Homo sapiens: one gene and its partners. Changing the gene in region 4 together with the main gene of any one other region gives a genetic interaction. Each region holds a gene or a part of one and is shown on either strand. Other genes may lie near its edges.

The links.
Region 1: changes in NF2 (region 4) and TYMS together harm fitness more than expected from each alone (negative genetic interaction), as found in Homo sapiens cells (one large-scale study listed by BioGRID).
Region 2: changes in NF2 (region 4) and UBE2K together harm fitness more than expected from each alone (negative genetic interaction), as found in Homo sapiens cells (one large-scale study listed by BioGRID).
Region 3: changes in NF2 (region 4) and NCSTN together harm fitness more than expected from each alone (negative genetic interaction), as found in Homo sapiens cells (one large-scale study listed by BioGRID).

Annotation. Positions count from the first base shown.
Region 1 is NC_000018.10:660,653-664,152, reverse strand, and holds part of TYMS (thymidylate synthase), read right to left. Parts: intron 2,008-3,500; coding exon 1,833-2,007; intron 1,168-1,832; exon of another isoform or gene 1,148-1,167; coding exon of another isoform or gene 1-1,147. Other genes in the region: ENOSF1 (mitochondrial enolase superfamily member 1), read left to right, coding at 1-1,147. UniProt on the Homo sapiens protein: Catalyzes the reductive methylation of 2'-deoxyuridine 5'-monophosphate (dUMP) to thymidine 5'-monophosphate (dTMP), using the cosubstrate, 5,10- methylenetetrahydrofolate (CH2H4folate) as a 1-carbon donor and reductant and contributes to the de novo mitochondrial thymidylate biosynthesis pathway.
Region 2 is NC_000004.12:39,771,136-39,774,635, reverse strand, and holds part of UBE2K (ubiquitin-conjugating enzyme E2 K), read right to left. Parts: exon of another isoform or gene 2,937-3,500; intron 1-2,936. UniProt on the Homo sapiens protein: Accepts ubiquitin from the E1 complex and catalyzes its covalent attachment to other proteins. In vitro, in the presence or in the absence of BRCA1-BARD1 E3 ubiquitin-protein ligase complex, catalyzes the synthesis of 'Lys-48'-linked polyubiquitin chains.
Region 3 is NC_000001.11:160,342,224-160,346,182, forward strand, and holds the start of NCSTN (nicastrin isoform 1 precursor), read left to right. Parts: upstream 1-1,159; 5' UTR 1,160-1,173; coding exon 1,174-1,258; intron 1,259-2,252; exon of another isoform or gene 2,253-2,366; coding exon of another isoform or gene 2,367-2,391; intron 2,392-2,498; coding exon 2,499-2,603; intron 2,604-3,959. Other genes in the region: COPA (coatomer subunit alpha), read right to left, coding at 908-947. UniProt on the Homo sapiens protein: Essential subunit of the gamma-secretase complex, an endoprotease complex that catalyzes the intramembrane cleavage of integral membrane proteins such as Notch receptors and APP (amyloid-beta precursor protein).
Region 4 is NC_000022.11:29,669,633-29,673,132, reverse strand, and holds part of NF2 (merlin), read right to left. Parts: intron 1,308-3,500; coding exon 1,185-1,307; intron 1-1,184. UniProt on the Homo sapiens protein: Probable regulator of the Hippo/SWH (Sav/Wts/Hpo) signaling pathway, a signaling pathway that plays a pivotal role in tumor suppression by restricting proliferation and promoting apoptosis.

The sequences.
Region 1 (3,500 bases), on a different chromosome or scaffold from region 4:
ATGCTCATGGGTAGGAAGAATCAATATCGTGAAAATGGCCATACTGCCCAAGGTAATTTATAGATTCAATGCCATCCCCATCAAGCTACCAATGACTTTCTTCACAGAATTGGAAAAAACTACTTTAAAGTTCATATGGAACCAAAAAAGAGCCCACATCGCCAAGTCAATCCTAAGCCAAAAGAACAAAGCTGGAGACATCACACTACCTGACTTCAAACTATACTACAAGGCTACAGTAACCAAAACAGTATGGTACTGGTACCAAAACAGACATATAGATCAATGGAACAGAACAGAGCCCTCAGAAATAACACCGCATATCTACAACTATCTGATCTTTGACAAACCTGAGAAAAACAAGCAATGGGGAAAGGATTCCCTATTTAATAAATGGTGCTGGGAAAACTGGCTAGCCATATGTAAAAAGCTGAAACTGGATCCCTTCCTTACACCTTATACAAAAATCAATTCAAGATGGATTAAAGACTTAAACGTTAGACCTAAAACCATAAAAACCCTAGAAGAAAACCTAGGCATTACCATTCAGGACATAGGCATGGGCAAGGACTTCATGTCTAAAACACCAAAAGCAATGGCAACAAAAGACAAAATTGACAAATGGGATCTAATTAAACTAAAGAGCTTCTGCACAGCAAAAGAAACTACCATCAGAGTGAACAGGCAACCCACAAAATGGGAGAAAATTTTTGCAACCTACTCATCTGACAAAGAGCTAATATCCAGAATCTACAATGAACTCAAACAAATTTATAAGAAAAAAACAAACAACCCCATCAAAAAGTGGGCGAAGGACATGAACAGACACTTCTCAAAAGAAGACATTTATGCAGCCAAAAAACACATGAAAAAATGCTCACCATCACTGGCCATCAGAGAAATGCAAATCAAAACCACAATGAGACACCATCTCACACCAGTTAGAATGGCAATCATTAAAAAGTCAGGAAACAACAGGTGCTGGAGAGGATGTGGAGAAATAGGAACACTTTTATACTGTTGGTGGGACTGTAAACTAGTTCAACCATTGTGGAAGTCAGTGTGGCGATTCCTCAGGGATCTAGAACTAGAAATACCATTTGACCCAGCCCTCCCATTACTGGGTATATACCCAAAGGACTATTAAATCATGCTGCTATAAAGACACATGCACACGTATGTTTATTGTGGCACTATTCACAATAGCAAAGACTTGGAACCAACCCAAATGTCCAACAATGATAGACTGGATTAAGAAAATGTGGCACATATACACCATGGAATACTATGCAGCCATAAAAAATGATGAGTTCATGTCCTTTGTAGGGACGTGGATGAAATTGGAAATCATCATTCTCAGTAAACTATCGCAAGAACAAAAAACCAAACACTGCATATTCTCACTCATAGGTGGGAATTGAACAACGAGAACATATGGACACAGGAAGGGGAACATCACACTCTGGGGACTGTTGTGGGGTGGGAGGAGGGGGGAGGGATAGCATTGGGAGATATACCTGATGCTAGATCATGAGTTAGTGGGTGCAGCGCACCAGCATGGCACATGTATACATATGTAACTAACCTGCACATTGTGCACATGTACCCTAAAACTTAAAGTATAATAATTAAAAAAAAAAAAAAAAAAGAGTGTGAAACGGCCTTCATGAGGCTTAATTGTGGCTTAACCTGGCACCACCCCTCACAAGGTCAAAGCTATACATCAGCTCCTGTGACATTGACTCATCCCCCAGACCTTATCTAAAACAACGGAGCAAACACATGCTAGGAAGGGCACCCGGGAAATGGAAGGCATTGTTCTATCTCCTCACCTGATTCCATATCTCTGTATTCTGCCCCAAAATGCCTCCACTGGAAGCCATAAACTGGGCCCAAGTCCCCTTCTTCTCTGGTGGAGAATCCCAGGCTGTCCAAAAAGTCTCGGGATCCATTGGCATCCCAGATTTTCACTCCCTTGGAAGACAGCTCTTTAGCATTTGTGGATCCCTGGAAGAGATGGGGAGAGCAGAGCAGGCATCCAGGTAAATCCTAAGCCATCTCAGTTGATCCCCCCGAGACACCACTTACAAGGGCCTCTGGCCCCTGCTGACTTGCTAGGAGGTGGGCACTTGACACCACCCATATGGAACCCATCCTTTTTTTTGTTTTTTGAGAGTTTCGCTCTTGTTGCCCAGGCTGGAGTGCAATGGCGCGATCGTGGCTCACGGCACCCTCCACCTCCCAGGTTCAAGCGATTCCCCTGCCTCAGCCTCCCGAGTAGCTGGGATTACAGGCATGCGCCACTACACCCAGCTAATTTTGTATTTTTAGTAGAGACAGTGTTTCTCCATGTTGGTCAGGCTGGCCTCGAACTCCTGACCTCAGGTGATCCGCCCACTTCGGCCTCCCGAAGTGCTGGGATTACAGGCGTGAGCCACCACACCCAGCTGCCCATCCTATCTTTAAGTAGGCTGGTCCCAGCCCAGATTCCTGAGGGCTTTAGGACAGTCTGATCCCTTCTTTGGAACCACCCTCCCAGATCTTTTCTTCCATTCCCCTCAACTAAGCTTTTTAGGCTAAACACCTCCAAGTGCTTTTAAGTATTCCACCGATCTGACAGTTTTATGTTTCTTAATGAAATGTGTTGTCTATATGTAATACCCCAAAATGAATTTAATGCCTACATGCAATCTGTTCAATGTATCTTCTACCTGGCATACAGGATATTCCTAATGATCAGACTAATCAGTATTTTACAGTGCAGGTGCCTCAACTCCTGTATTTGATCGAGTCACCAATGGAGTAACTCCAACTATCAAGGTGAGTCTGACATTCCTGGCAAGGATTCCTTAGAATCCTGAATTGAAGCATTAAGTTGAAACAGGGGAATGCATTTTATTTCTGAGTATCTTGCTTCCTCCCTTTCTATTGTTGAGTTTGTCCCGATTTTCTTTGATTGAGAAAGAATCAAAGAAATTTCCAACAAATCAAAGAAATTTCTCCAATTGAGAAATTTCCAACAAATCATTTCTCAATCTTTTACATATTGCTTCAAAAGTCTCTCCTTTTCATCCATTCAGACCAGGCTCTAGCCAGTTTAAGAATGTTGTCTTCTGAGGTTTCTGATGATATGTTTCAAATCCAAGGTTCATTGTTAGTCAAGATAGGCCAATACAGAACAAAATACCCCAAGAATACAGAGCTAAGGCAGACCTGGGGCTGGATCCAAATTGAAGCCCTTTCTAAAATGGGATAAGAGGGCTTGGGTCTGGCTTGCCCCAAGACCATACAAGCCATACCAAGTGCTCTATAGAAGGGATCCCAGCTTCTAGTATGGCCCAGACCTGAGCCCAGACCTCAGCCACCTTCCAAAAAGCACTGGTCAGAAAGAACATCGCTGGTTCTAGACCAGGACACGGAACACAGAGAAGCTTGGTCTGGGCTGCTGCCTGTCTTCACAGCACTCTGGCCCCGGCCTGAGGTACCTACTCAGCCCTCTG
Region 2 (3,500 bases), on a different chromosome or scaffold from region 4:
TTTCTTTTTTCTTTTTTTCCCCTGAGACGGAGTCTGGCTCTGTCGCCCAGGCTGGAGTGCAGTGGTATAGTCTCGGTTCACTGCAAGCTCCGCCTCCCGGGTTCACGCCATTCTCCTGCCTCAGCCTTCAGAGTAGCTGAGACTACAGGGGCCCGCCTTAACGCCCAGCTAATTTTTTGTATTTTTTTTTTTAGTAGAGACGGGGTTTCACAGTGTTAGCCAGGATGGTCTCGATCTCCTGACCTCGTAATCCGCCCGCCTTGGCCTCCCAATGTGCTGGGATTACAGGCATGAAAAACCACCTGCGCCCGGCCTTTTTTCTTTTTTTTAATGACAGTGTCTTGCTCTGCCGCTCAGGCTGGAGTGGGCAGTGGCACTATCTTGTCTCACTGCAACCTCCGCCTCCTGGGCTCAAGCGATTCTCCTGCCTCAGCCTCACGAGTAGCTGGGACTACAGGCACACACCACCACACCCAGCATTTTTTTTGTTTTTCCTTTTTTCGTAAAGACGGGGTTTTGCCATGTTGCCTAGGCTGGTATCGAACTTCTGAGCTCAGGTGATCCATCCACCTTGGCCTCCCAAAGGTTAGGGTTACAGGTGTGAGCTACTACACTCGGCCAGCTTTTCTATTTCTTAAGACAACTCGAATTCTGAACTGTCCTTGTTTTTCTTGTTGCCAAGATCCTTCTTGTTAGTTTAGTTTAGTTTAGTTTTGAGGCGGAGTCTCACTCTGTCGCCCAGGCTGGAGTGCAGTGGCGCGATCTCGGCTCCCTGCAAGCTCCGCCTCCCGGGTTCACGCTATTCTCCTGCCTCAGCCTCCCGAGTAGCTGGGACAACAGGCGCCCGCCACCACGCCCGGCTAATTTTTTGTATTTTTAGTAGAGACGGGGTTTCACTGTGTTAGCCAGGATGGTCTCGATCTCCTGACCTCGTGATCCGCCCGCCTCGGCCTCCCAAAGTGCTGGGATTACAGGCGTGAGCCACCGCGCCCAGCCACCTTCTTGTTAGTTTTATCCACTCACTTATTTTTCTATCCATTTCTCTAAACAAAGTTAAAGTGATAAATCATTAGTACTAATAGCATGTGAGGCTTTCTTTCAATGGCACTCTAAAAACAAGATACTATGAAACAAATATATTTTCTTTTTTCTTTTCTTTTATTTTCTTGAGATGGAGTCTCACTCTGCCGCCGAGGCTGGAGTGCAGTGGCGCGATCTCGGCTCACCGGAACCTCCACCTCCCTGGTTCAAGCAATTCTCCTGCCTCAGCCTCACAAGTAGCTGGGACTACAGGCACATGCCACCATGCCCGGCTAATTTTTTGTAGTTTTAGTAGAACAGGGTTTCACCGTGAGACACAGGATGGTCTTGATCTCCTGACCTTGTGATCCGCCCGCCTTGGCCTCCCAAAATGCTGGGATTACAGGCTTGAGCCACCGCGCCCGGCCATATTTTCAAGAAAATATGAAATCATTCCATAACATTCTGAAACAGGACAAGTTTTTTGGATTAAACTACATCACTTAATTTATGATTCTAAATGTATTTATAAGGAAAATATCTTTATAAAGCTAATATTTGTCTAAAAAATAGTATCTACCTGTCTAGCAATAATTCTTGGCATTTCTGTTAAAAAAAGTTGTCTCACTGGCTGGGCGCGGTGGCTCACACCTGTAATCCCAACACTTTGGGAGGCCAGGGCGGGCAATCATCTGAGGTCAGGAGTTCAAGACCAGCCTGGCCAACATGGTGAAACCTCATCTCTACAAAAAATGCAAAAATTAGCTGGGCGTGGTGGCATGTGCCTGTAATCCCAGCTGCTCAGGTGGCTGAGGAAGGAGAATCGCTTGAGCTCGGGAGGCGGAGGTTGCCGTGAGCCAAAATCATGCCATTGCACTCTAGCCTGGGCGACAGAGCGAGACTCCATCTCAAAAAAAAAAAAAAGTTGCTTTATCAATTAATAGAGGTATGTATAAATATGTGGACATATTAAAAATGTTACATGTAAAGAGAATGCCCATTTTTACCATGTAAATTAGATCATTCTTCTTTTTTTCTTTTTTTGAGATAGGGTCTCACGCTGCCTAGGCTAAAGTGCAGTGGTACAATCAAGGCTCACTGTAGCCTTGACCTCTTTGGCTCAGGTGATTCTCATACCTCAGCCTCCTGAGTAGCTGGGACTACAGGTGCACACCACCACGCCCAGCTAATTAAAAACAATTTTTTTTTTTTTTTTTTGGTAGAGACAGGGTTTCACCATGTTACCCAGGCTGGTCTTGAACTCCTGAGCTCAAGCAGTCCTCCCACCTCAGCCCCCGAAAGTGATGGGATTATAGGTGTGAGCCACGACAACTAGCCAATTACTCTAAACCAGCCTTTTTCAACTGGGTTCCTGATTTGAACCACAAAATAGAAAAAATTAGTGACTGTTTTCTCAATTTTCCCAAGTTTGGTACATAAATAGTACTTCCCTAGATGCCTACGATAAAAGTTAATTTAGGCTGGGTGCAGTGGCTGACGCCTGTAATCCCAGCATTTAGGAAGGCCGAGGCAGGCAGATCACTTGAGGCCAGGAGTTTGAGACCAGCCTGGGCAACATGGCGAAACACTGTCTGCCAAAAATACAAAAATTAGCCAGATGTGGTGGCACATGCTTGTAATCCCAGTTACTTGAGGGGCTGAGGCAGGAATCGCTCGAACCTGGGAGGCGAAGGTTATAGTGAGTCCAGATGGCGCCACCGCACTCCAGCCTGAGGGAGACAGCCAGACTGTCTCCTACACCTCCACCCCTAGCCAAAAAGTTAAGTTATTGCCAACAACCAACAATGGATGTCTTAAAGCAATGATCTCAGTGTTGTTCATCCAACCAGCAGCATCAGCATCCCTTGGGAAGTTTTCTCTATCCCAGAGCTACTGAATCAGAAACTCCAGGGTTTGAGTCCTAGCCGACGCCGTCGCCGCGCGCGCGAGGCCTGGAACACACCGCACGAGCCGCTCCCGCCCCTACCCCTTTACGCCCACGTGGAGCCGGCCCCGCCAGCGCGAGCGCGCCCTATACACCCTCCCGCCCTGCGCCTACATGCTGCCCTGGCTCTGCCCGTGTGTGGGGGGCGCTTCCGGCCCCGCGGGGGTGGGGAAAATAGGGGATTAAAAAAAAACAGCGCGCGGAACCGGGCCAGGGTTGCCCACCCCCGCCACAATGGCCTCTGGGGTGAAGTCCTGCGCTTCCAGCTGCCCGGCCACTAGGCCGCTACGCTACGGAACATGAACAAGCTCCGGGCAGAGGAGTGGTTCTGCGACGTGACCATTGTGGCCGACAGCCTCAAGTTTCGAGGCCACAAGGTCATCTTAGCCGCCTGCTCACCGTTCCTGCGGGACCAGTTCCTGCTTAACCCCAGCTCGGAGCTGCAGGTCTCCCTGATGCACAGTGCACGCATCGTGGCCGACCTGCTTCTCTCCTGCTACACGGGCACCCTGGAATTCGCTGTTAGGGACATCGT
Region 3 (3,959 bases), on a different chromosome or scaffold from region 4:
AGTGGATGTCTCAGGATTCCAAGGCAAGCCCATCTGACTTCAAAGACCAAGTTCCTAACCACTTTGTTACGCTGCATCTCACTAAATATTCTAGATACTATTTTTTCCAGGTCTTCGGAGACCTTACTTCTCTGACTTTCACATTCTAACGTTCTGAGGCTAATACTGCGATCTCAGTATTTGCCCTCCACCCCCAACGACCCACACTCGAGCTCTAGAGCTGCCGTACTTAGCAAATAAAAATACGAGATTTCCAGATAAATTTGAACTTCTGGTAAGCAACGACAGACTAAAAAACTATTCATTGTTTACCTGAAATTCAAATTTAACTGGGTATCCTGCATTTTATCTGGCAACTCTATCAAGTTGAGACTTTATTGGGGTTATAAGCCTCAAGTACTATTTCCGGGTAGTAAATAAAGCCGAATGGAGGCACTGATGTTGAGATGCTGCAGCCAAGGCCTCCTTAAGTGAGGTTGCCACTACTCGTCTCCAAAAAGGCTACTGACTCGGGTGCGAGTAACAGAGATCGAGACTCAGTTCCCAGGGCCACTCCATATAACACAGTCATCAAAAAGCCAACAGATCACAGGGCCTTTGGAGCAGAACAACACAAATCGGGAGCACAGCCAAGAGAGAAAGGGGGAAGAAAGAATAGGGAGGGGGTCTAAGGAATCCCCTGCAGTGTGGGAGCCACTTTATAGGTAAATCGAAGCCCAAGGACACACCAAAGAAGAGGGGACTGGAGAACCGCTAGCCAGGCCCAACCTCTCTCCCACCCTCCGTCTTCCTCCGGGTCCGTCTGGTGGGCCCATTTCGACCAACACCTCTACCCATTTTCTCTTCCCCGGTGTCAGCGCCGCTCCTGACATCCAACCTCCATGTTCCCCCTTTTATTCTCCACTACCTTTGACCCGCGCGCTCTTGGTCTCGAATTTGGTTAACATCTCTCAGGTCTCCGACTCCGATGTCTTAATCCGAGCCCCGACACACCCTGCTGCCCTTCGGACGCCTCCACGTCAGCGACCCTCTCCCGCGGTTTCCGGAAGCGCCTGGAAACACGAACTTCCGGTCTCTTAGGCTCCGGGCCACAGAGACGGTGTCAGTGGTAGCCTAGAGAGGCCGCTAACAGACAGGAGCCGAACGGGGGCTTCCGCTCAGCAGAGAGGCAAGATGGCTACGGCAGGGGGTGGCTCTGGGGCTGACCCGGGAAGTCGGGGTCTCCTTCGCCTTCTGTCTTTCTGCGTCCTACTAGCAGGTGAGGCCTCCCCGCCCGTGAGCTCCGTTCTCTAAGGGGAACTCTCGGATCGGCCCCGCCGCGACCGCCACTGTCTCCCTTCTGGTTCCTGCTGCCCCTCTGTCCCCCCACCCTGTAAATCCTCTTTCTTTTTCGTTCCCACGACAGAAGTTCCCCCTTTGCCTGGACCTGAAGGTCCCTTCTCCCCCGCAGCACGTCGTGTCGCTTCACTCCCTTCTCTAGGCCTCTTCCTGGACTTCGAGCCTGACCCTCTCCCACTTTGTCCAGATGTCTCGTTTTTCCCACAACCCCAGCCACCCACCCCACAGTCGAAAGGAACAGGTGTGAAAGTTAGCTTTCTTCCTCGCGTTTAGACTTTTTGAGACGAAAGCAATCTTGTTCTGTGGGTGCTGTGCGGCGCTTAAAAGGTGGATTTCTTATTTCTTCCTCTGTTGATTACATCCTAAGTCTGTGTCCCCCTGCCTTGCCTCAGGTTTTTTTTTTTTTTTTTTTTTTAATCAGTAAAGCAAGAATAAGGTAGGATATGGGTACTCTTAACTGTGAAGACCCTGAAGTAACAATTCAAGGAACTTTTGGCATTTATAATGTACTTAAGTGTTTGCTGATACGCGTTCATTTACTGATACATGGCTTTTTAGTTGGTCAAGCCCTAAAATGCAAATGCCTGTATATAACTATGACTGTGCCTTCCCCCAATTCACATTGTTTTTAAGGATCCTCAAAGGAGAAACTACAGCTGCCCCACACTGTGGGCACACAAATGACCTGCTGATGTTAAATTAACTGACCCGTGTATGTCATAAGGTTTCTCTCAATTCTGTTCACACTCTTGGAAAAATGCCTCAGAAAGTTTTCTTAGCCCAGCACCTGTGTATTAACCAATTAGTAATATACATACAGGATATACAAGCAGAAGTGTGATCACCTGTGCAACCAGAATCTGGCAAATCTAAGGTCAAACACCTTTCCTTTGACCAAGTTTTCTCTCTTTTAGTGTCACTGTCAATGGCGCTACATGGACTTTGTAATAACCCTTTGAGGCACATAGCTGGGTGCCATGTAGAACATGTATCTGTTACGATAAGTGTGTGCCCAAGAAATCAGAAGAATGGACTTTAATCTCATTTTAGAAAGTATGATATTAAATGATTTACCCAAGCCATACTTCAGGTTAATGACACGATAGAAGCTAGTACCTGTGTCTCTCAAATTTTTCTAACACTTTTTATCTTCCGATCAGGTTTGTGCAGGGGAAACTCAGTGGAGAGGAAGATATATATCCCCTTAAATAAAACAGCTCCCTGTGTTCGCCTGCTCAACGCCACTCATCAGATTGGCTGCCAGTGTGAGTTGAGATGGATTCATGTTTGTGGACATTGATATTTGTCTGTGCCCTAGATACTAAGTAACATCCATGTCCTGCTTAGGAGATTTGACACTTATATTGGACTGTATGTAGGCAGTTACAGATAACCGTCTGTCAAGCTAGGCAAGATAATTAATAAGAACTAACATTTAGTAAATGCTGCATACCAAGCTTTTTACATGTGCATCTCATACAACCCCAACCACAACCCCACAAAATAGGTCTTACTGTTATTGTCACTTTATAAATGATGAAACTAAAACTTAAAGAAGTTGAGTAACTTTCCCAAGATCATACTGGTAATAAGTGATGATGCCAGGATCTGGTGGCCCGAGCACTAAGCTGAGAGACCTTTTTTTTTTGACACGGAGTTTCACTCTTGTCCCCCAGGCTGGAGTGCAATGGCACGATCTCGGCTCACGGTGACCTCTGCCTTCTAGGTTCAAGTGATTCTCCTGCCTCAGCCTCTTGAGTAGCTGGGATTACATGCACCTGCCACCATGCCCAGCTAATTTTTGTATTTTTAGTAGAGATGGTGTTTCACCATGTTGGCCAGGCTGGTCTCGAACTCTTGACCTCAAGTGATCCACCCACCTTGGCCTCCCAAAATGCTGGGATTACAGGCGTGAGCCACCGCACCCAGCCGAGCCAGCACTCTTAACCACCCTATTATACTGTTTTTTAAGGAGAAAAAAGTCTCATATTCTATGGTGTCCAGTTATCACTTGCACTCTGAACTTTTTGGAACCAAAATGGGCTAAAGGCAATGAACTATCTGAAGAGAAGGCACTGAAAATGCCAAATAGGCTGGGCGCAGTGGCACATGCCTGTAATCCCAGCACTTCAGGAGGTCAAGGCGGGTGGATCACTTGAGGTCAGGAGTTTGAGACCAATCTGCCAGCATGGTGAAACCCCCCCATCTCTACTAAAAATACAAAAATTAGCCGGCTGGCTGCTATGGCATGCCTGTAGTCCTAGCTTCTCGGGAGGCGGAAGCAGAAGAATCCCTTGAGCCCAGGAGGCGGAGGTTGCAGTGAGCTGAGATTGTGCCACCATACTCCAGTATAGGTGACAGAGTGAGACACTGTCTGAAAAAAAAAAAAAAAAAAAAAAAGAAAATGCTGAATAATTGCAAGAGGAATTAGTGAAGCATTCTATTTATCCTTTTTTAAAACTTTTTTTCCTTAAATTCAACTGACAGGCCGTTTATTTTCACACTTTGTGTGTTCCAAAAGAAGGTTCCATGACACTGTGGCTTTAAAAACTATCAAAATCATAGGGCAGGAAAAGTAGTAATCTAAAGGCTAACCTGCTGTCTTCAGATTTTGTTTCCCA
Region 4 (3,500 bases):
CTGACAAGAAATGACAAGCCACATTCCCCAACTTTTCAGAAGGGCCCTTCGGGCTGCACCCATGGGGAGTAACAAGAGCACCTTCTCTGAGTACCCACCTCAGCTCAGGCTTATGCTTCACGTGGAGAAAAACAACTTAAACTCTGTTCTTTCCCTTTAAATCAGTGGTTAGAACCAGAGGAGTTTTTTGTCCCCTGCAAGAGACATGTGGCAGGTGGGGCACGGTGGCTCACGCCTATAATCCCAGCCTTTTGGGAGGCTGAGGCGGGCAGATCACCTGAGGTCAGGAGTTCAAGACCAGCCTGGCTAACATGGTGAAAACCCATTTCTACTAAAAATACAAAAAAAAAAAAGCTGGATGTGTTGGCGCGCACCTGTAATCCCAGCTACTTGGGAGGCTGAGGCAGGAGAATCGCTTGAACCCAGGAGGCGGAGGTTGCAGTGAGCCAAGATCATGCCATTGCACTCCAGCTTGGGCAACAAGAGTGAAACTCCATCTCAAAAAAAAAAAATAAAAGTACAGCTGGGCACGGTGGCTAACACCTATAATCCCAGCACTTTGGGAGGCTGAGGCGGGCAGATCACGAGGTCAGGAGTTCGAAACCAGCCTGACCAACATGGGGAAACCCCATCTCTACTAAAAATACAAAAATTAGCTGGGCATGGTGATGCATGCCTGTAATCCCAGCTGCTCAGGAGGCTGAGGCAGGAGAATTGCTTGAACCTGGGAGGTGAAGATTGCAGTAAGCTGAGATCGTGCCACTGTACACTCCAGCCTAGGCAACAGAGCGAGACTCCGTCTCAAAAAAAAAAAAAAAAAAAAGAGACATGTGGCAATGTCTGAAGATGTTTTGGATTGTTACAAATGGAGGGTGAGGTGCTGCTACTGGGATCTAGTTCCTACAGCAAAGGATGGTCAGCCCCAAATGTCAGTAGTGCCCAGGCTGAGAAGCCCTGCTATAAAGGCAACCTCGTGGTGAAAGTGGAGTTTGGCTGCACATAAGCTCAACCTAAATCTGCTTCTGCCAACACAGGTGAAAAGAAAAGGCACTGATTTTTTCAAAGCTGAAATTAAGTATTTCAAAGCAAACGCTGCTAACTCATGGTTTTCAGGAGACCAAGCTCCAGAAAAGCCAAGGAAGTCCCCAAGTAGCCTCCTGGAACCCCAGCCCCTCAGAAATCACCAGTGCTTCGTTGGCCATTGTTGCTTCTTCTTTCATCTGCAGCAGCCTCCTCTCCAACTCATCCCTCGTGCGTTCAGCCTCCTCCCTCATCTGCTTCTCTCGAGCGAGGCGCTGCCGCTCCATCTGCGAGGGGTGAAGAAAAACAGTCATTGAATCACAGGGCTCGAGACCTAGGGTGCCACAAGGGCCCAAAGATGCCCCATCTCCAGTCTCCCCTTTTGGGACCTTTTTCCTTCCCTTTCCTTTAGGTAGCCAGGGTCATTCTTATTGCCCCCCACCCCGTCCTTCTAAACCAGTTGCAGAGTTGAAAGCTGTGCCACTTGAAAAACAGTCTAGTGGTGAATGAACAAATGAACAAACAATAAAAACCTGTTGAGTCTTGACCCGGATAGAAAAAGGCATTCTTTTTTTTTGGTGGAGGGGACAGAGTTTTGCTCTGTCACCCAGGCTGGAGTGCAGTGGCGCGATCTCGGCTCACTGCAACCTCCGCCTCCCAGGTTCAATCAATTCTCCTGCCTCAGCCTCCCGAGTAGCTGGGACTATAGGCACCCGCCACCATGCCTGGCTAATTTTTGTATTTTTAGTAGAGATCAGGTTTCACCATATTGGCCAGGCTGGTCTTGAACTCCTGACCTTATGATCCACCCACCTTGGCCTCCCAAAGTGCTGGGATTACAGGCATGAGCCGCCGCGCCTGGCAGAAGGAGGCATTCTTATACACGGTGCACTGAAATGGCTACCTTGCCAATGTTGCTTTTTGTTGGGAAACCCCAGGTGGCTCTGCCCCATGGCCGATGGGATGCAATGCAGGACCTCCTCCCTCAGATAGAGCCCCAGAAATAAGCAGCTTTCTCATCTGGGCAGGCAAGCCATCTCACCATTTCTAATCCACATGGACCCCTCTCACATCTCTGATTTCATCAACAATAGCTCCACTCTTGCCTCTGACCCACAGAGAAGATGGAATCATTCTACGTGATGCATCAATAGTTCACACATTGTATTTCACAGGGGGGAGCTGCAACAGCCACAGCACAGACTTGCACAGCCTCATGTGGAGACAACTCCTGAGCCAGGCCTAGGACAGGAGGGAGCCAGGCGGGAAACACAGCCCCGTGTCCTTAAGGCAACAGCACAAAGCCACCACTACCTCCCTTGCCTTCTGGATCACTGCATTAATTGGGCCACATGCTGAGCTTAATAAGGGGAACAAGCACAAGACAGTGCCATTCCTCTGTGATCCCAGGGTACTAACTGAGTTCAAAAAGCAGAACCCAGAAGTGACCACTGCACTATTTTCTGCCTTAAATAATTAAAGCACATTTAATTACTTCTTGCTTCAATCTTATCCCACACTCTGGTCATACAAGGTTTCTAAGACTGCTGCTTTTTCTAAATCCTAAGCCAAATACACACACACACACACACACACACACACACACACAAGCTCAAAAAGATAATGCAAAGACAAGCAATAAAACAGTGAAAGTTCTTCTCCAATTTTCTCCTTGTAAGTCAATGAAAAGCTTGGCCAATTTGTTCTCTAATTTCCATCATATTACAATTTCCATAAGGTGGCTTACTACATATCTACAATTCTTTTAAAAAAAAAGAAACTAAGAAAGAAAGAAAGAAAAAGCCCAGTCAGGCCAGGCAGGCATAGCAGCTCATGCCTGTAACCCTAGCACTTTGGGGGGCTGAAGTAGGAGGAATGTTTGAGCCCAGGAGTTTGAGATCAGCCTGGGTAACATAGCAAGACCTGATCTCTACGAAACAATTAAAATTAACTAGGTGTGGTAGCATGCACTTGTAGTCCCAGCTACTTGAGGGGCTGAGGCAGAAGGATTGCTCAAGCCCAGGAGCTTGAGGTTACAGTGAGCTATGATGGCACCACTGCACTCCAGCCTCAGTGACAGAACAAGACCCTTTTATTAAAAAAAAAAGCCAGGTAATCTCCTTCAGTTCCTGGCCCTGTACTTTCCCTGAGACCTCTACCCCAATATAAAAGACCTCCTATTCACAAAAGAAGTTTACTGCATACAAAGACTGTAAGGTGTAATATACGTCCCTTCATCTGAGATGGAGAAGGTATATCATTAGTTTCACCTGATGGATGAGAAAACTAAGGTCTGGAAGGTAAGTCATTGACTTACTCACATTCTAAATTTCAGATCTGGCTCCAAGGTCAGTGTCTGTCCACCTGATCTGTGGTTGCCCAGATGCCAGGTTTGTGGCTCTGCTGTGCTGTAAGCAGTGCCGATCTGCAGTGTTCCTGCTATTCTCTGCCAGGGCCCACAGACTGCATATTCCCTGACA